Linked DNA regions of Homo sapiens: region 2 is linked to region 1. The links come from fine-mapping of genetic effects on gene expression. A gene starts in region 1. The other region holds a variant in brackets. All regions are shown on one strand. Distances are from middle to middle. Region 1 holds the start of PRKCQ-AS1 (PRKCQ antisense RNA 1). Region 2 has its middle 18 kb from the start of LINC02648.

The links.
Region 2: its variant is fine-mapped to the expression of PRKCQ-AS1 in whole blood (INTERVAL, PIP 0.94).

What each region holds. Positions count from the first base shown.
Region 1 is chr10:6,575,097-6,584,430 of GRCh38, reverse strand. It overlaps PRKCQ-AS1 (PRKCQ antisense RNA 1), which reads right to left and starts at 4,006. Exons shown (of 2, transcript NR_036503.1): 1 at 3,504-4,006; 2 at 1-755. It overlaps PRKCQ (protein kinase C theta), which reads left to right and starts at 4,155. Exons shown (of 18, transcript NM_006257.5): 1 at 4,155-4,220. RefSeq lists an enhancer at 650-944 and silencers at 3,744-3,893, 3,904-4,153.
Region 2 is chr10:6,595,353-6,606,021 of GRCh38, reverse strand. No RefSeq gene overlaps it. Among named protein-coding and RNA genes, the nearest start is that of LINC02648, 18 kb to the left of the region's middle. The variant G/T (reference allele first, on the strand shown) is at 4,168.

The DNA.
Region 1 (9,334 bases):
ATCTCCCTTTTACTTATCCAAGCTGTGAATTTAAAATACCTTTCGTTTTTGTTTGTTTGTGCCTATCAACTTTGACCCATAGCTCCCAGAATAATTTTGATATTTTCTGAATAAATTGACACTAGACTTTATACATCACTCATGTCTTTATTTAGGGTAGGCCACTGTCCTCTAATTCCATACTGATTCTTCTGGGTACTCTGGTGAGCCACTCAAAAAACAATTTCTGCCAAACCTTTGGGAAAGTATCAGTGGTTTGGTGGCCAAATTCCTCATCAAATAGTGCAAACTGGTTTCCTCCAAGCTGTGACTTCTGCAGAGACAGAAATGTCCTTGTTAAGTAACACTGTCCTCAAATTTTCTATGTGTATCATAGCCTACTTCCTCCTGAATACTACCTTTCTCCAAATCAAGACTCAAAATAATATGTTTTCTTTTTAATTTCTATCCTAAATCCCATATAGAAGGAAGGATGCAAGACGTGGTCTCCATGGGAGACAGAGTATAATCACCAACTAGGTCCAAAAGAAAAGCAAAGTCGTGTCCTGGGTTCCTTTTTCCAAGTTCCGAGTTGTGGGAAGATGGGTTGTGGCAGCTCCGGGAGCAGACACATAGGATTTCCTCCTTCCTCAGCTCTCAGGAGGGCCGCTGGATCCAAGGCAGGGGTCAGGTATTTCCGAGATGAAGTGAACTGAATAGGGCGGCTACCCGAAAGGCAGTCCTCAGCATTATTCCAGGAAACATCAGGGCAGAACCTGAAAGAGGAAAAGAAGTACACAGCTGAAAGTTAGGGTGTGTTTAACGTAGTGAGTGGAACCTCACCGCCCACGTGTCATCCCCTCCAGGAAATGCCATTTCCTCTTCCAGGAAACAAAGGTGTGGAGAACTTCTGAGAGCAGCCACGTTTATATAACTAAGAGACAGTGTCTAATAGAAAACAGAAACACCCCATGGCCTGGGAAAGGAGATGGCGGGTCTACAGGATGCTGGCATCAAGAATATCTAGAGGTGTCCACTACACCTAATGGATACCAAGAACAGATGTGAATTTTTTGTTTTAGATGAAATTTTACGATAAAAAAATCCCAATTTTGTAGATATATGATGGATGTTGTTTTAAAAGATCTGATCTTCAGGTTAACGGGTTTCCTGTTGTAGGACTATACGATTATAGGACAATTGAGTAGCCAAGAGTCCTCAAAGATCAGTTGTCCAAAAGAGAAAGAAAGAGAAAACTGAGTGTACGATGTAAGAATGGAGAATTGGCTGGGCGCAGTGGCTTATGCCTGTAATCCCAGCACTTTCGGAGGCTGAGGTGGGCGGATCACCTGATGTCAGGAGTTCGAGACCACCCTGGCCAACATGGTGAAACCCGTCTCTACTAACAATACAAAAATTAACTGAGCATGGTGGCAGGCACATGCCTGTAATCCCAGCTACTCAGGAGGCTGAGGCAGGAAGAATCACTTGAATCCAGAAGGCAGAGGTTGCAGTGAGCCAAGATTGTGCCACTGCACTCCAGCCTGGGTGACAGAACAAGACTCCATCTCAAAAAAAAAAAAAAAAAAGGAGAATTAATTATTCAGCAGCTCTTGAGATGGTGGCTCCAGCCTGACCTGGGTTTGAATCTTGGTTCTGGTACTTTAGTAATTGTGGGATCTTGAGCGAGGTACATAACCTTTCTAAGCCTTGTTAGTCTCTTCTGTTAAAGAGAGATGATAATGATGATGATACATATCACATCAGATTATGAATATTATATGAGTAGTGCGTCTAAAGTCATCACAGGCTGGGCATGGTGGCTCACCCCGATAATCCCAGCATTTTGGGAAGCTGAGGTAGGAGCATCACTTGAGCCCAGGAGTTTTAAACCAGCCTGGGCAACATAGTGAGACCCCGTCTCTACAAAAAAATCTTTTTAAATATTAGCTTGGTCATGGTGATGTGTGCCTGTAGTCCCAGCTATTTGGGAGGCTGAGGTGAGAGGATAACTTGAGTCCTGGGGGATCAAAACTGCAGTGAGCTATGATCACGCCGCTGCACTCCATCCTGGGCAACACAGCAAGACTCTGTCTCAAAAAGAAAAAAAAAAGTCCTTATCATACCTGGTGTATATATGAAACTTTTTCTAAAGCCACTAACTACTGATTAAATTAACAGGACATATGAGCTTCCTTTCAGTGCCTAATTGTCAATGAGAAACCCAGATATGGAGCGTGAGGAATCTACCATCTTCTAGGCACAGTAGCTGTTATCCGTTTGCCATTTCTTCTTTGCACTGTAACAGGATCCGCTGAAAAACAATTGGAGAAAGAGCCAGATGGATGGCAGTCTGAACTAGGGAAGCTTCTGTTTTGTAGTTTGCAGAAAGAATCTGCATGGGGATCACTGCTTAAGCTTTGCCTCTTTGTTTCCAGACACAGACGCACTTTCCTGCCTAATTTCCATAGCAAATACCCAATGAGCGCCTACTGTATGCCAGGTTCTGATGATGTCAGAGTGAGCCAGCACTTCCGAGGTACTGGCCACTCTCAAACCTCCTGGCTAGGATCTTCCAAGAGCTACAGCCTCTGGCCTGAGGGTCAGTCCAATGCTGTTAGATATTGACAAATGCGGGGCTAATTTTAATGGAATATAGTTTTATCCTTAAAAGGTGTGTGTGTTTTGGCTTTATTTGGGTTCATATAGATTAGGGGCATCATCATAACTCGCTTCCTAGTGCAGACCTGAGTGATTTAATCAAGTCTTGAAACACTTCGGGGCCTCAGTTTTTCATCTGCCTTCCCAACCTCTGAGGTTCTTTTTAGTTGACATCCTACATTCCCATGATCAGAAGGCTGCTAATTCAACTTTTGGCTTTTGTTAAACCTTTTTTTTTTTTGAGGCAGAGTTTTGCTGTCACCCAGACTGCAGTGCAGTGGTGAGATCTCAGCTCACTGCAACCTCCTCCTCCCAGGTTCAAACGATTCTCCTGCCTCAGCCTTCTGAGTAGCTGGGATTACTGGCACGTGCCACAACACCCAGCTAATTTTTGTATTTTTAGGAGAGACACGATTTTGCCATGTTGGCCAGGCTGGTCTCAAACTCCCAGCCTCAAGCGATCCACCCGCCTCAGCCTCCCAAAGTGCTGGCATTACAGGCATGAGCCACCGCACCTGGCCTGTTTTGTTTTGTTTTAATCGTTTTTAATGTCTCTCTCAAAACAAGAAAAGAAAAAAGGACAAAAAATTACTATTTTACTTCTCAGATTAATCTGATCTTAGTACACTACAGCAACAAAAGTCTTAATCAAGTACGTTTTAATTATTTGGTGTCATCATTGCAAGGAAACCATTCAGTAAGAATATTAGTAACCAGACATATAATTTTCTAACCTGAATGAGAAATTAGTTACATGGAGTATAGAAAAAGAAACCACCCCGTTTATCCTCCCTGTGACCATCATTAGTATTACCCGCAAGGCATAAAAAGTCCTAAAATGACACGCACGGCGGCAACATTACCTTTGCAGCTTCAAGCACAGTAAAGTTGAAAGCAGTCCCACCTTGGCAATTGTGTATAAAACGACAATGTGCAGATACAGGAAAAGTCCCAGGTCCGAAGCCACCTAGGAACGATGACCCCAGGACAGAAGTGTGCCCAAACAAATGCCTGGGGTAGGTCATTTTAAAAGGAACAATGTTTACAAGCCCTTTCTAGCGTGAAAAACAGAGAAAAGAGACCCAGCTCTTTCCACCCAATCTGCTGGAGCGCCGTTTCGTTTTCAGTTGGGCGAGAGGGAGACATGTGGCCTCTCGCCCCTTTTCCTGACTCTGAGAATGTGGCCGGAGCCGGGGCGCTCCTGCTCCGCCTCGCCGCCCTCCCGGGGCTGTCCTGGGCCCTCCGGCCGCCGCCTCCCGCTCCAGTTCGCAGCTGGGCGACAAGTGGCTGGTAAGGAGGCCAGGGGCGGGAGCCTGGGCGCGGGACCGGGGGCGCACGGCGGGGGACCGAGCGCGCGTCCCTGGCTAGAGGTGCCGGGTCCCGGGAGGCCGGGCTGGCGGGGAGGCTGGCGAGCGCCCCCTGGCGGGCACCGCCTTCTAGGCGCACCCGCAGTGCGCCGGGCCCGCCAGCCCCGCCAGCCCCGCCAGCCCCGCCAGCCCCGCCAGTCCCCGCGCAGTCCCCGCGCAGTCCCCGCGCAGTCCCAGCGCCACCGGGCAGCAGCGGCGCCGTGCTCGCTCCAGGTAGGGCCCCGCGCCCCGCGCCGCCGCCGGGAGGGAGCGGGCTGGAGGGGCCGAGACCCGTGGCGAGAAGGGCTACCCGGGCCCCTCGGAGAGCCTCCGGGAAGGGGTGAGGGCTGCCGGGTGAGCAGGCGGAGTAGGAAATGGAACCAAGCGGGCGCAAGAGCGCACCGGGAAGAATTTCCCCGCTGGGTTTCTGGGACGCAGGTCGCACGGGATGCGGGATGCTGGCGACCTTAGCCGGGTGGGGGCCGCCGGCCTGGGGGCGCTTCCTCCTTTCTTCTCCCTTTTCCTTCTCACCTGAACGAAAGGGGGCCTGCGGGGAGGGAAGAAGGTGGAAAGTTTTTGTATTCTTGGTAAAAAAAAAAAAAAAAAATGCGTGAGGAAACATGTTTTCTGGAGATGGTATCCTGTCCACAGGGGAGCATAACCCCTTTTCTGGGAATGTATTGGAGCACGGACGGGGGTGCCATTGCTCAGGCTTCTAAACAAGCCAAGTTTCTGGTCAAGGGCCTGGGGGAGGGGGAGGCAGGTCTTTGAAAGATACCAAAAAAAAAAAAAAAAGAAAAATCTGCGTGCTCATTCCTGTAGCCTCAAGTGAGGTTATTCCCCAGCTTTGAGGGCCAGGTTAACCAAGCAAAGTTTGTGCAATAAAGTATCTTTGTGGTATTGGATTTTCGAGAGCCACCGTTATCAATGGGAGAGTGACTGTTGAATGCTACAGGCGTGTGCACTCCCCCGTGGGCATGAAGAGAGGTCCACGGGCTGGCTGGATTGGGAGACTCCGGTCATTTCTGCAAGGAGAGCGCCACAGGACTGCCTTGTTCCCTGGGCTGTCCTGCCCCTGTGCGGGCTGGACGTGGTGCTATAAAAGATGATTCAGGAGTGGCACAGGCTGAGGGGGACTAGGCTGGAGAAGGTGGAGGGAAGAGGGAGCACTCCGTGCCCTCTTCCTGTCCATGGGAAATGAACCATCTGTGCCTGGTGTCCAAGTCCTTGACGTTCCAGTTGCCCTTTGAGAGCACACCTCAAGCCTGCTGAATTCTTTTAAGAACCACCTACAAGATCTGAGAAGTCCGCCCATGCTTTCTGTCAACTCCGGCCTCTTTGACCTTTTCTTTTGCCAAAGAAAATTCTAAACCACTGGGATTCGTGAGGCTCCGTGAGAGAGGCAAGAAGCCTGGAGGGTCCACTCCGTTGCTCTTTTCCCTTGGTTTGCTCCCTAGAAGCCATGGTCCCCACTGGGCCCTTCTTGCCCGAGGCTGTGTGATAGACAAGCCCTATTCCTAAGGTCCTGGGTCCCCCACCCCACCCCACACCCCGACCTTGTGAATCATCATCTTCATATTTTCCCTAACTTATCTTTGGTAACCCTTGTAAAATGGCAGGCTTACTGCGGATGCTTAATCTCTTTTAAAAGTGCTGTGTCTAGCGGGAAGAAGAGTGACATTTACTAATATGGTTGCAAATTACTTTTGAAGTTTATGCACAGCTGTTTAAAATCCCTCTGAGATCAGTGCCATTGTTTGATGCAGGTGCTTACCGCAGAAGGCTCTTGTTAGTCCCTTCCTCCTGCTGATTGAACATACATATATTTAAAGACGTGGCGTAGGGAGAGCTTCTAAAACCTGCAAAGCCAAAGCTGCACAGCTCCTGCAAGTTAGCGATCCACTCTAAGTTTTTCAGTTGTTGTTTCTGTCTTCTTGCCTCTCATGAACTTCTGTTTCTGATTTCAAGAGTAACCTGCTGGGCACCATCAGCCTTTGTTTCAGTGACCTGCGATTTTCTTCTACACTTTAAAAATGTCAATATCCAGGCAAGACTCTTGTCACCCACCATCCGCGTTGTCATGTTCATTTCCGCTACTGTCTTGTGCTGTGGTGCCTCGGGATGGCAACTGTTACTTGAGGAGCTAACTTCTACCTCTGTTCTCCTACAGACATGTCCTCATTGCGTCTTCGCTCACCATACACGGTGCAGCTCCTGGAAATTTGATTTGTTTTGCTGTCTCACTTCTCCTTCAGGCAACAAGGGGATGGTGTTCGATTATTCACACCTCAGCTCCTTCTGTAATCTCAAAGATCCCTTTCAACAATAATACTCTCTGTCTCTTGTTAACGCCAGGCATCAGAAGCCCCCTTACATAGCCGGCTTGTCACTGGTCATTTCTATAAAGTATTCTCATTCTAACACATGCTGTCTCTTCCGTGGAAAAGACTAAATTCTTCTCTGCAATGAATTAGATGTTTTAACCAAAATTCCATGTGGACTGGGTCCAGAATTTTCTTTCAAGAGTATGGGCTTGTGGTACAAGTATGTAACTTCGGGGATTCAGAAGTAGACCTACACAGACAAATCTCCTTATAACGTGTTATTTAATTATGGTATATTTGCCTTTCTGGAAATTAGGAATTAGAGTTAGTACTTCCTGTTTTTAATGCATTTGATTGATGTCTTAGAGTTGCTGATTATGTTGTTGCCCCTAAAAATGTTGCTAATGTGCTGGTTTGTTAACAAGGTTATATTTGATTTCAGGTGATTTCCTTTTTATGGAGTTCAGTCTTTAATTTTTTTCAATAATTTGCCTCAAATCATTTAAAATGATATATTGTTATATAATGAAAATCCCAGCAATATAGACGTGATTCCGTGTGTGTGTGTATGTGTGTGTGTAATCTGTAATTTAAAATAGAGAAATTAGTATTGTGACGGCATACATAGCATTAAACTCATGCTTGCTGTTTCTGTTGTTTTAACACTTTAAGCAGCTCATTTCTAAGCAGCTATGTGTTCAGCTCAGCTTTTTCATACCTATTCCAATTGTTAAGGAAGAAGTCATGAGAAACTATAGAAAAATGTGATGTTGAACCAGAGAGATGGATTAAAAGCTGTTTCCTTACAATGGTGAAAATATCTTTCATTATTTTAACATGCCAAGCATTTATACATGTCAAATTCTGATTGCTCTGTCATCTAAACACATTCTTGGGGACAAAATGAGCATCAGAGTTTTAAAATTAGGAAAGCTCACTCAAGCCCAGAATCATAGATTTTTGCTCCTGGATTAAATTAGCAAGTATTTGGCAGGACATCTTTCTGCAGGTTGCTGTAGGTTGATGTTAGCTTTTGAATTAAGCTAATAGTATTAATTATAATAATAATAATCAGCATCAACAAAACCAATGAAATATGGTTTTGAGTCTTTATTATTTAGAATTTATGTGCTGTATATCATACTCAGAATTTTATTTATATGTAAGAGGCATTACTGCTTCATTTAACCTCCAAAAGCCTTTATAAATTAGATATTATTATTATTCCAGTTTTTCAGATGAGGAAACTGAGGCTCAAGGGGTAGAGCCCCTTGTCCAGGTCTTATAACCAGTCAGTGGTAGAGTCAGGTTAGTTGGACCATCCAGATTAGTCTAACCATCAAGCATTTGCTTTAAACCGCAGTCCCAGGTGACCTACCAGTTAACTTTTTTATTGTGGTTAAAATACACATAACTTAAAATTTAACTTCTTAACTATTTTCTAGCGTACAGTTCAGTGACATTAAGTATATTCACATTGTTTTGCAACCATTGCCATCATCCATCCACAGGATTCTTCTCATCTCCTAAAACTGAAACTCTGTCCTCGTGGAACATTCGTTCCTCATCCGTCTTTCCTCTCAGCCCCTGGCAGCCACCCTTCTACTTCCTGTCTCTAAGATTCTGACTGCTCTAGGGACCTCACAGAAGCAGAATACAGTATCCATCCTTTTGTAACTGTCTTATTTCACTTAGCATAGTGTTCTCAAGCTGTATCCATGTGACAGCATTGGACAGGACTTCCTTCCTTTTTAAGTCTGAATACTATTCCATTTATGGATATACCACATTTTGCTTATCCTTGTATCTGTTGATGGTTGCTTCTATCTTTTGATTATTGTGAATAATGCTGCCGTGAAGAGGAACACGCAGATATCTGTTTGAGGTCCTGCTTTCAATTCTTTGGGGTATGTACCCAGCAGTAGAATTGTGGGGTCGTAGGGTAATTCTATGTTTAATTTTTTGAGGAACTGCCATATTGTTTTCCACAGTGGCTGGACCGTTTTACATTCCCACCAGTGGTAGAAAGGGTCCCAATTATTCCACATTCTCAGCAACGCTGTCTTTTGTTTTGTGTTTTTTGAGATGGAGTCTCGCTGTGTCGCCAGGCTGGAGTGCAGTGGCATGATCTCAGCTCACTGCAACCTCTACCTCCCAGGTTCAAGCAATTCTCCTGCCTCAGCCTCCTGAGTAGCTGGGACTATAGGCACGCGCTGCCACACCCAGCTAACTTTTGTATTTTTAGTAGAGATGGGGTTTCACCATGTTGGCCAAGATGGTCTCGATCTCTTGACCTCATGATCCACCCACCTTGGCCTCCCAAAGTGCTGAGATTACAGGCGTGAGCCACCGCACCTGGGCTTTTTTAAAAATCTTCTTTATAGTAGCCTTTCTAATTGGTGTAAGGTGCTGATAGTTAACTTTTTACCCAATCATTGAATGCCCAATGGCAGGGATCTCTGGGCTGATGCTACTCCTGAGTTCATTGTTTATTTCCTATCCCAGCTTGAGCATATACACCTTTTTCTAGTGTAGAATTAATGGAGGAAATACAACTCACACAGCACCTGAGGGACTAGGGAAGCCATGGAAAGGACAGTCCCTAAAACATAAACAGAATGTCCCGGTAGGTAGGGTTATCTCCACCTCCATGAGGAACCTTATGATTCAGAAATGAGTAGTTGTTGAGAATAAAGTGAACATGGCATCAGTGTTAATAACCCTGAATGTGTGGGACAGATGCTTTTTAGAAGATTAGTTACAGATATAATTATCTTTTGTATGTTATCAGAGCAGGACAAGTTCCCAGGACAATGGAGAGAATGGAAAGGGAAACTGCTATTGAATTCACCAGGCCTTTGTTGCAAGCCTCAGATCACACACCGTGCTGCAAAACCCACAGGGAGATGTGGTCAGGCAAATAGGAAATTATAATGAATTGTGATGAATTCATGAGATATTTGTACTATTTTGTATCAGTTTATAATGTCATGCAACTCTGTTTTATATTTGCTAGTTTCCTTT
Region 2 (10,669 bases), 21 kb before region 1:
CATCTCTGCAAATAGGCTGTTGCCCAAGAAACTTTTTGGTTCCTCAGAAACTTCTGGTCACCAGCCGGGCGCGGTGGCTCACGCCTGTAATCCCAGCACTTTGGGAGGCTGAGGCGGGTGGATCACGAGATCATGAGATCGAGACCATCCTGGCTAACATGGTGAAACCCCGTCTCCACTAAAAATACAAAAAATTGCCAGGTGTGGTGGCGGGCGCCTGTAGTCCCAGCTGCTTGGGAGGCTGAGACAGGAGAATGGCGTGAACCTGGGAGGCGGAGCTTGCAGCGAGCCAAGATTGCGCCACTCCACTCCAGCCTGGGCGACAGAGCGAGACTCCATCTCAAGAAACAAAAACAAAAACAAAACTCCTGGTCGCCATGCTCGCTTTGGTTCTGTCTCTAGCTCTGCCACCCTGGGACTTCAGGACCCTTCTGAGCTACAGTATTCCCACCTCTGCCCGTCAGTGCAGAGGCCCACCCCTCAGCACTCTGTAAAGACCCTCCCCTTCCCCTTGTTGGCCGATTTCTCCACCTCTTAATGAAGGAGTAACCATCTGGCCTCTCTTAGGGGACATCATTAGAGGGTGTCATAGAAAAAAAATAATTGTCCCCCAAAGATGTTATTGTAATCCCGGAACCCGTGGATATGTATTTTTTATGGCAAAAGGGTCTTTGCAGGTGTGATCAAGTTAAGGCGCTGGAGATAGGGTGATTATCCTGGATGACTGGGGCAAAGATAGGGTGATTATCCTGGATGACTGGGGTGGACCCAATGTACAAGAAGGAAGTGGGCTTTGGAGTTAGAGAAGAAGATGTAGTGGGATGAGCAGAGATGGGAGAGAGAGAGACAGAAAGGGACTTGAAGATGCTATGCTGCTGGCTTTGAAGGTGGGGAAGGCAACACGAGTCAAAGAAAGCAGGAAAAGGCAAGAAATAGATATAGATGCTCCCCCACTCCCGCAACCCAGGGTACCCAGGAGGAACACAGCCCAGACCACACCTTGATTTTAGGACTTCTGACCTCCAGAACTGACACATAGTAAATGTGTGTTGTCTTAAGCCACTACATTTGTGACTTTGTTACAGCAGCAATCCGGACCTAATATAGGTGAGTGAGCAATTTCCGTGTGAAGGATCCACTCAAGTCCTCCCAGCTCCTGAAGTCTTTTAGTCCCCTCTTCTGCCTTAACGTGAGGCACTCTGGAGTCTCAGAGTCCTTGAGTCTGGTCAGCTACTTCCTGAGGGCAAGCTTCAGCCAACCTTCCCAGAAAACGTTTAGAATCACTCTCTCTTATTTGAGCTGGTACATTGAATCCAGAATCTCTGGTAAGTGCCCCTAATTTGAGAAATTCAGCCTCACCTAAAATTGCGTTCCTTTCTTCCTGGTTTATGACCTTAAAAATTCATTCTCACCTATGCTTCTCTGGTTTCTGCTGGTATTCATTGGCAACATCTTGTAATTCATTGAGTCTGTAAGCATTCTCCTCCCAGGTAAGACCGTATTTACCCCCTGAGCCTTGCTGGGATATGGCTCTGGAGTTACGAGGGATAGAGAAATCAAGAGTCTGGAGGCCATGAGAGAATGGTCCTGTGTGAGAAGCGTGATCCCTGTTAGAAATCACCCAGGTGAGATGTTTGCATTAAGCCTTAGGGGAGGAGGGCTTGCTTCTGTGGCTGACAAAGCCTCTCTGGGGTTTGAATCTGCCCAAACATCCTCTTTCCAATCCTCTCTTTCCCAGAATTGTCCTATTTTCACACACACACACACACACACACGAGAATGGGAAGGCTGGAAAGGCAGAACCTGTGCTGTAATTCAGCAGCCCATGAGGACAGACCATGCCTGATTGCCAGCTGCATCAGCCCCATGCCTACAAGACATGAGCACACGCAGGGAAGTGCTGTGGTCCTCTGCCTGTTTCTTTAAAAGAAAATCTCAACCCTGAGCTCATCATATTATTTTAAATTAAGCTTTCTGGCACAGTTAAAAACAGGTAACCCATATTCTGAAGGCAAAATATCCTTGTTGCTTTCACACGTAATCTGATAAGATTGACAATCCAGATTGCCCATTTTCTTGAGAATAATCACACCAATTAGGGTAAAAGTTTACTGGCAAAGAACAGACTTCACTCTGGCTAGTTTACGTAAGAAGAGATTCTTATCACAGGCTAGTAAACACCTTCCAGAATCATTGCGAACGCTGCAGAAACAAACTCTGGGCTGTGCTTTTAGGAATAACGTTCAAATTATACTGCAGTCTCTGGCAGACAAGAGAGTGGTTGCTTTTGCCGCAATCAGGCACGGGGAATATGCTGCTTGAGGGATGAACCTGCCTCTGCACACAAGGGTCCCTGTGCCAAGCCGGCTCACTAGGATCCGTTTCAATGGAAAGGAGGTGTGTTGCCCACCTCAAATCCAAGTTCTGAGCAAATGTTTCTGCTCGCAGAACCTAAATCACATCCCAAACTCCAACTGCAAGGGAATCTAGGAGATGTCATTTTTAATATTCCAGCCTCTACTCCAAGAAGGCAGTTGAAACCAATCCGCAGTGTCTGCCCACTCCCGTGGGGATTCCTCAAGGAAGTACCACCAAGGGACTATCTGGAAAATCATGCAGTGAGGGTAATCCAAGCCCAACAGCTGCATTCGTGAGCTCTGGACATGCCAGAGACTTCTTGGCAGATGAGCTGGGAGTCAGAGCCTTGAGAAGAATGCAGGACCAGTTGTTTGGCAAGTGAGGGAGGCAATTCAAACTCAGCTCAGATGTTATGCGGATCAGGAATTTGAACTTCGAATTGTGCTCCATTGTTACCTTTTTGTGTGTTGGATTTTTCTTCATAGTTACTTTTATCTTATTGTTTAAAGTTCTCCTATTTTATTTCAGAAATGGAGAAAAAAGATTTCTACACCATAGTCAAGGTCTCTAATGGGAGAACTAACTAGTGAGAGAGGAATTATTCCCACCAGAGGGGAATTCCCTCTGACAAGCTTCTCAATTTACAAATTCTCAGCTTATGTTGAATTTGGCAAATGAGAGCCATATACACATTGTTTTTATTTTGGAATTTGGATCTATACAATTAACTAAGTGAAAGCTAGTATGCTATATGAATGCTAATTAATTGCTCCTCTTTTAAATAACAACAATTAAGACATTGTTAGCTGTACTGGTTTGCATACACAAATTGTTTGTCTTTGCTACTGGAGAAACTCACTGATCACAGCTGCATGAAAAATGTCTGGTCTACGAAACTTCCATCCATCTTCACATGATAATGCTTAGTTATGCACAATTAATTAACACTTGTAGATCAAAGGATTTTACTCTTATTTATGTCTACCTTTAACTCCTAGAATTGTGTACAATTACTTCCTGAGAAAATTTGTGCAGAATAATCACTTAACATGAAATAAAGTAATAAAACATTGAAACTGGGATGTGCATATGTGCATGAGTCTGGGATTGGGTGAGTTTCTGACAAATTGAGCATATGGAGCCTTGTGATTGATACAAAAGTAGCCATCTCTGAGAAGCCCCAAGCAGCTCGTGTTTGCACAGATTCTCTAGTGACTAAGACTGTTCTTATTTTCTCTACGCCTTTTTCCACTTTCCCATAAGCATTTTTAGACTATGCACTGTTTTTCTACACTGAAATCATCAAGTCACCTCCAAATCTTAAAACCAAGCAGAGAAAGGCCATTATTTAATCATAGCAGTTATGGGGTACAGAAGCAGTCTTCACATTTCCTACATCACATGCAGCCAGAAATCATTTCCTCCCACTGTAAACCCACCAGATTTTTTTTCAACTCACAGGAAGAAACAATGTTTTGGTCTCACTTATTTGCAGGTATATTGGAGGTTTGTATATCTTAAAAGAGAAACTGTCTCTAAGCCCCCAAACCCAAACCAAGGTTAAAAAATGCCCCCTTTTTCCTATTTGGCCTGGAAGCCAAATAATGCTTTCAAAGTAAACCTGTGCATTTTTAAAAACCAATGAGGATAATTCAGAATAAATAAATAAATAAATAAATATTCAAGTTTTCTCTCAATTTTGCAGATCTGGCCACACATCACATCAGCCTCAGGGTCTTCAACATTTTGTGACTGCCACGAGCTTTCCCCAGAACGATAAGATCAACACCGGTGGCTGAATATATCTCT[G/T]TCTCTAATTAAAGGCTTCCTTCTGTGCTGTGCTATGGATTAACTTGTAATCTACCGGCAGGTCTTCTTATGCTAGTTACCAAATACACAGTTCCAGGGACGAATTCTCTTTGAAACACCTCATTGATGAGTATTTAAAGCAGGGATCCCTAACCTCTGGCCTACAGACATGTAGCATTCCATGGCCTGGTAGAAACCAGGCTTCACAGCAGAAGGTGAGTGGCGGGCCAGCAAGCCAAACTTCATCTGTGTTCACAGCCGCTCTCCGTGGCCCACATTACCATCTGAGCTTCGCCCCCTATCAGATCAGTGATGGCATTAGATTCTCACAGGAGCATGAACCCTATCGTGAACTGTGTGTGCGAAGGATCTGGGTTGTAAGCTTCTTATGAGAATCTAAGGCCTGATGATCTGTCACTGTCTCCCATCACCCCCAGATGGGGCTGTCTAGTTGCAGGAAAACAAGCTCAGGGCTCCCACTGATTCTACTTTATGGTGAGTCGTAGAATTATTTTATTATATATTACAATGTAATAACAATAGAAATAAAGTGCATAATAAATGTAATGCACTTGGATCATCCTGAAACCATCCCTGTCTCCACCCCATCCATGGAAAAATTATCTTCCATGAAACCAGTCCCTGGTGCTGAAACGGTTGGGGACTACTAATTTAAAGGACACCCCATCATGCATCTCAACTACTATTTTTGAGGACAGATGTTAGTTATCCTGAATAATCAATTTTGTTATTCATCTGTTTCTCTTTTATATTTCTCACAGATACGATTTATCAACTGGATAATTTCTCTGAGTAATCAAGAAATTAGTAGCCTACGCTTGTAGTATGTGTTAACTGGGGAGATAAAGATTCCAAGGATAAAGAGAGTAAATTGATGTACATCTAATCAATGGATGTAACACCAATTTAAATGTTTAATCAATTCTCACAAACTCTTCAAACCCCTTGAGATGCTCTGTGTTCTCAGGTGGCTGCCATGCAGAGCCTGCGAATCCAGCAAGGGACTCTTGAGGCACCAGCAGCCTCCTTGTGAATGGCACCTGTCCCCCTAGCAAGACCACCGCCCTGGCCTGGCTTCATTACCTGGTCGTATAAAGACGGCAATGTTTCACTACCTTCCCAGAATTAGTGCTGACTCCCTTGAGTACCCAAACAGGAAATCCACAAGTTTTAAAGTACCCGTTCAATCAACCATGCTTGGTAACTTTCACACAGGCTTATGCAAGAACTTGCTCCAGTACTGTTTTTAATCATCTCTTCTGGAGCTGGCAAATTGTTTGCTTAATTTTGCATATGCCAACTCCAACGAGCTCATAATAGCTCCCAGGAGCGCTGCATTGAGAAGGATTCTGAGATCCTATATGAGCTTATGGGAAAGCACATTGTGTCAGGCAGCATTTATGCCCCATCAGTCTTGCTCCAGCCACTGCTGTAGGAACCACCTGTGCACAAGTGAACCTCACAACACCTCACTTCAGTTTCCTGCTGTCTCTTTTGCCTTCTATCTGGGGGCAGTCCTGCTCCTGTGGTGAGGAATCTCTGTAGGAACCAGCCCAGCCATGCTGCCAGTGGGCTAATTGCTGGGGCAGCCCTTGACCAGTGGGCTGAGAGCCAACAGGGAAATACTCCATTTCTGTGTCTTGGGTGGACAGTGCTGAGGAACATCCTACACCATTCCTCAGATTGCCCTTGATATGGTTTGGCTCTGTGTCCCCACCCAAATCTCATCTTGAACTGTAGCTCCCATAATTCCCACGTGTTGTGGGAGGGACCCAGTGGGAGATACTTGAATCATGGTAGTGAATAAGTCTCATAGGATCTGATGGTTTTATAAGGGGTTTCCCTTTTTGTTTGGCTCTCATTCTCTCTTGTCTGCCACCATGTAAGACATGCCTTTTGCCCTCCACCATGATTGTGAGGCCTTTCCAGCCACGTGGAACTGTGAGTCCATTAAACCTCTTTTTCTTTATAAATTACCCAGTCTCAGGTATATCTTTATCAGCAGTGTGAAAACAGACTAATACAGTCCTCCCTGGGGTTGATCCCACAGCCATAACCAGCTAATAATGCATCTATAAACCGGCTGGAATTCCCACTTTCCCTCCTCACTCTCCTCAGTTCCCCATTCCTGTTCTCTCAGATCACTTCTCAAAGTAAATTGTTTCTATAAGAGTTCTTATCTCAAGTTCTGCTTTCTTGGGGGGAAATCCAAGCTAAGAAAAGTCGCTGCTAAATTATTGGGGTTAGCCATGAATGAAGGTTTCATGGGGAGTTCTACCTCTTAAGTTCTACCTCCTGGTGTCTTCCATCCCTTACAATGATTTCAACTCCAATCAGCAGCGGAGCAACTGATACAATATCACTGAGGAGGCGGTTCAGTTAGCTGACAGTTGTTATCATTATGTATAGTTTAGAATAAACAATGTGTTTGTTTTAACTCCAAGTTCAATCTTTCGTTCATCATCTTTAAAAATTAAGACAAATGTTTCATCCTCATTATCAACAACAATATCAACAATCTTTTCTGGGTGATTTTTTTTTCAGAGTACTGTCTGAAAAGTACTGTTGAGAATGACCAAGGAGACAAAAATAGAGAACTACTTGCGAGACTAAAGTATAAATGATAAAAGAGGGTAGGGAGCTGAGGGGATGAAGAGAGGTTGATTAATGGGTACTATACTAGTTCGTTCTCACACTGCTATAAAGAACTACCTGAGACTGGGTAATTTATAAAGGAAGGGGGTTTAATTGACTCACAGTTCTACAGGCTGTACAGGAGGCATGGCTGGGAGGCCTCAGGAAACTTATAATCATGGCAGAAAGGTGAAGGGGAAGCAGGCATGTCTTCATATGGTGGCAGAAAAGAAGGAGAGCGAAGGGGGAAGGGCTGCACACCTTTAAACAACCAGATCTCATGAGAACAGTAAGGGAGAAGTCTGCCCCCATGACTCAATTGCCTCTCATGAGGCCCTTCCTGTGGGGATTGCAGTTTTACATGAGATTTGGCTAGAGACACAGAGCCAAACCATATCAGGTACAAACACACACTTAGAAGAAATAAGACCTGGTGTTTGATACATCAGTAGGTTAATTATAATTAACATGAAGTGATTGCACATTTCAAAATAACTAGAAGATAATAATTTGAACATTCCTAGCATAAAGATAAATATTTAAGATGTTGGACATCCCAATTACCCTGATTTGATTATATGAATGTACCAAATTATTACATGTACCCTAAAAATATGTACAGCTATGGTGTATCAATAAAAATAAATAAATATTTTTATAGCAAAAAAGATCTGAGAGCAAAAGCTATAATAATAATATAAATTGCATATTCTGAAAACTAAATAAATGCCACCAAGAAAAAAATACTATCTTTAGGGAAGAGGTGGAACTTGAATTGGATGTGCAAAAAAAGGATTGGATTGGCAGAGGAGTAGAAAGGGAATTCCAGGCTGAGGATTGGTTTTAGCAAAAGTGCAGCATGGGAATGCATGTGGCATGTTCAAGAATTAATTAGGCAATGAGTTTAGGATAGAGAATATTTATGGAAATAGAGGGAGATAAATTTAAAGAAATAGACTGGGACTATACTACGAAGGATGATAAAGACCAGAAAAAGGAGTCTGAATGTTTATTCTATAACCCATAAGGTCTTATTGGCTATTTGGTGACTCAAACTATCAATAAGCCTTGAAGCTTGCAGACCAGAACTAACAAAATATCCCAGATAATATAGATGAACACAAGGAAGACTGCAGTGTGCTCTTGAACCACACAACTGCTACTCACAATTCTTTCGAATAATAAAAGGTGAAGGTGAGAACTTTAAGAAATGCTTAAAAGAAGGGGAAATAAAATAAAAATTGGGATGTCAGAGAGCTATATGCACTCCCATGTTCCCTATAGCAATATTCACAATAGCCAAGATATGGAATAACCTCTGTCCATCAAGGGATAAATGACAAAGAAAATGTGGTATAAGTAAAGCCTTAAAGAAAAGAAAAATCTATCATTCTTGACAACATGAATAAACCTGGAGGACATTATGCTGGGTGAAATAAGGCCGGCAGAGGAAGAGCAATACCACATTATCTCAAAACATCTCATGATGTGGAACATAAAGACGTCAAACTCATAGATGCAGAGAGTAGAATGGTGGTTACCAAGGACTGGAGGTGGGGGGGGAAATAGGGGATTGTTAAACCATACAAAATTTCAGTTCGACAGGAGGAACAAGTTCAATATATCCATTCTACAACATGGTGATTCTGGTTAACAGCAACGTGTCGTATACTTGAAAATTGCTCAGAGATTTTAAATATTCTCACTACAAACAAATGAAAACTGTTTGAGGTAATGTACATGTTAATTAGCTTGATGTAGCCATTCCACAATGTACACATATTTCAAAACATCATATTGTGCACCATAAATAGACACGGTTTTTAAAATTTCTCAATTTGAAAAAATGTTTTAGAGAAGAAAGCAAAGAAGACAAAAAGCAAGACCTTACTGCTGAGCCTGAATCCACCGGCCTGGATACCAGTGGATTTTCCTGAATGAAGTCACTGATTTTTTTTTTTTAAGTAATCATTACTTTTCAATTCTAGGACTTAGAAAATGCTTGTAACATATTTGCAAGGCAGTAAAGGATTAGTCACTGAATATATCAATGTGTTAAAATGATAAAATAATTAGGCAGGCAAGATGGAAAAGGAAAAAGGCTTTAAAATCTGCAGCGGAAGGATGGATTTAGATAGCTGCCTCATACCTCCTCCTTCTTGTTTTATATTTTTAATCCTGTTAAAAAAAATCACTCCCTCAACAAATATTCTTTGAATGGTGACTGTGTATCATGGGAAGGTTACTGGAGGCACAGGCTTAAAGTCAACACTGCTTTCAAATCTACACTCTGCCATCTACTCACCCATGGTTTTTGCAAATTGTGCGTATTTTCTGATCCTCAATTTTCTTTTCTGTAAAACAAAGATATAATATCTACCTCATAGTCTAATGTAAGAATCATATTTATAAAAGTTCTATAATATGCAATCAATTAATGGAAACTTAAAGATTAAAAAGTTTCATTTTCCATATCATCAAAAAAATGGAAAGATAAATTACTGTATGATAGGGCATTTGCTAATTTCCTAGCTATAATTTCAGCAATTGTGATAGGCTCTGCCTACAGAAATAATTTTAGTTGGAATTTAAATATCTCTATTAAATCTTTAAATTTCATTAGGAAACATAAATTCTGACTTCTCATTTAAAGATGGCCTATCCAATGTCCATGTATTTAGTTTCTCTGCTTCTCTGACTTAAAAAGAAATGGTATACTGAAAGTTATTTATTTGTTTCACATAATTCTACTTAAATCGCTTGAGATATCTGCTTTCTAGCTTCTCATTTAAAAAATCTCTCAAGTAATCTTGAAATACACAGTAACTTTTATTTTGATTTTCCCATTCAGCTTGGTGTTTAATTCTTTGAGATTCAGTGATTCAAGCTTTTAGTAAATTACCATTATGATTCTATTACATCATCAACTCCAGAATCATAGTACCAAGAGAAAAAAAATATATAAACTCACAAGTTTAAATTTGCTACAACTAATTATTGAAAAAAGCATTTTAATACTAAATCAGATTTTTAAGGCAGAGATCATACAACTGATACAAACTCCAAAAATTAGCAAAATCCCTGACACTCATTAATAAGCTCATTGTCTTTGATAGTGTCGTAATGATGTTTTTATTACATGAAAAGCTTTGTATAAGTTGGAAAAATACTTACGAGACATCATCAAATGTCTTTTTTTAACCTACATAAAAATAGCAACTAAAAAAGCACATCAGAAACATAATACCCTCAGTTAAAGAGTCGTTTTTGTCTGAAAATGGAAGAAAATCTAACATATTTACCATTTCCCCACAGTTGGCATGTCTCTATCAGTTAGAAAGGAGGACAAAAGTATACAGTGAAATGTGATTTCACTCAGTAGCTTGAGGCAGCCAGCAAAAGAATTTTGACCTTACAGTGTCTCCTTCAAAGGATGCTGTTCGAGCAAGTGTTTTCTTCACAAAAAGCAAAACCAGTCACTGTTCAAAACCAACATGGCTAGGCTGAAAATTTCAGCAACATCTGTGAATTTCTCTGCAAACTCATCAACAGGAACAGGTGGTAATTTACCAACCAAATAAGCAAGGTAAATGACTCCACAGAGAACTCCTTTGTATAGGACGGACTATGGGGGTTGAGGAAATCAGATTGCATTCTAGAGATCCACTACGTAACATTGTGCCTGTAGTTAACAACACGAAACTGTGCACTTAGAAATCTGTTATGAGGGTAGATCTCATATTAAATGACCTCCTAAAATATGCTGGAATGATGTCTCTCATCTTTTTTTCTGTTTAAAATTAGGTGTAGTATTTACACTGTTTTATTAATTTTACTATTTTTGTCA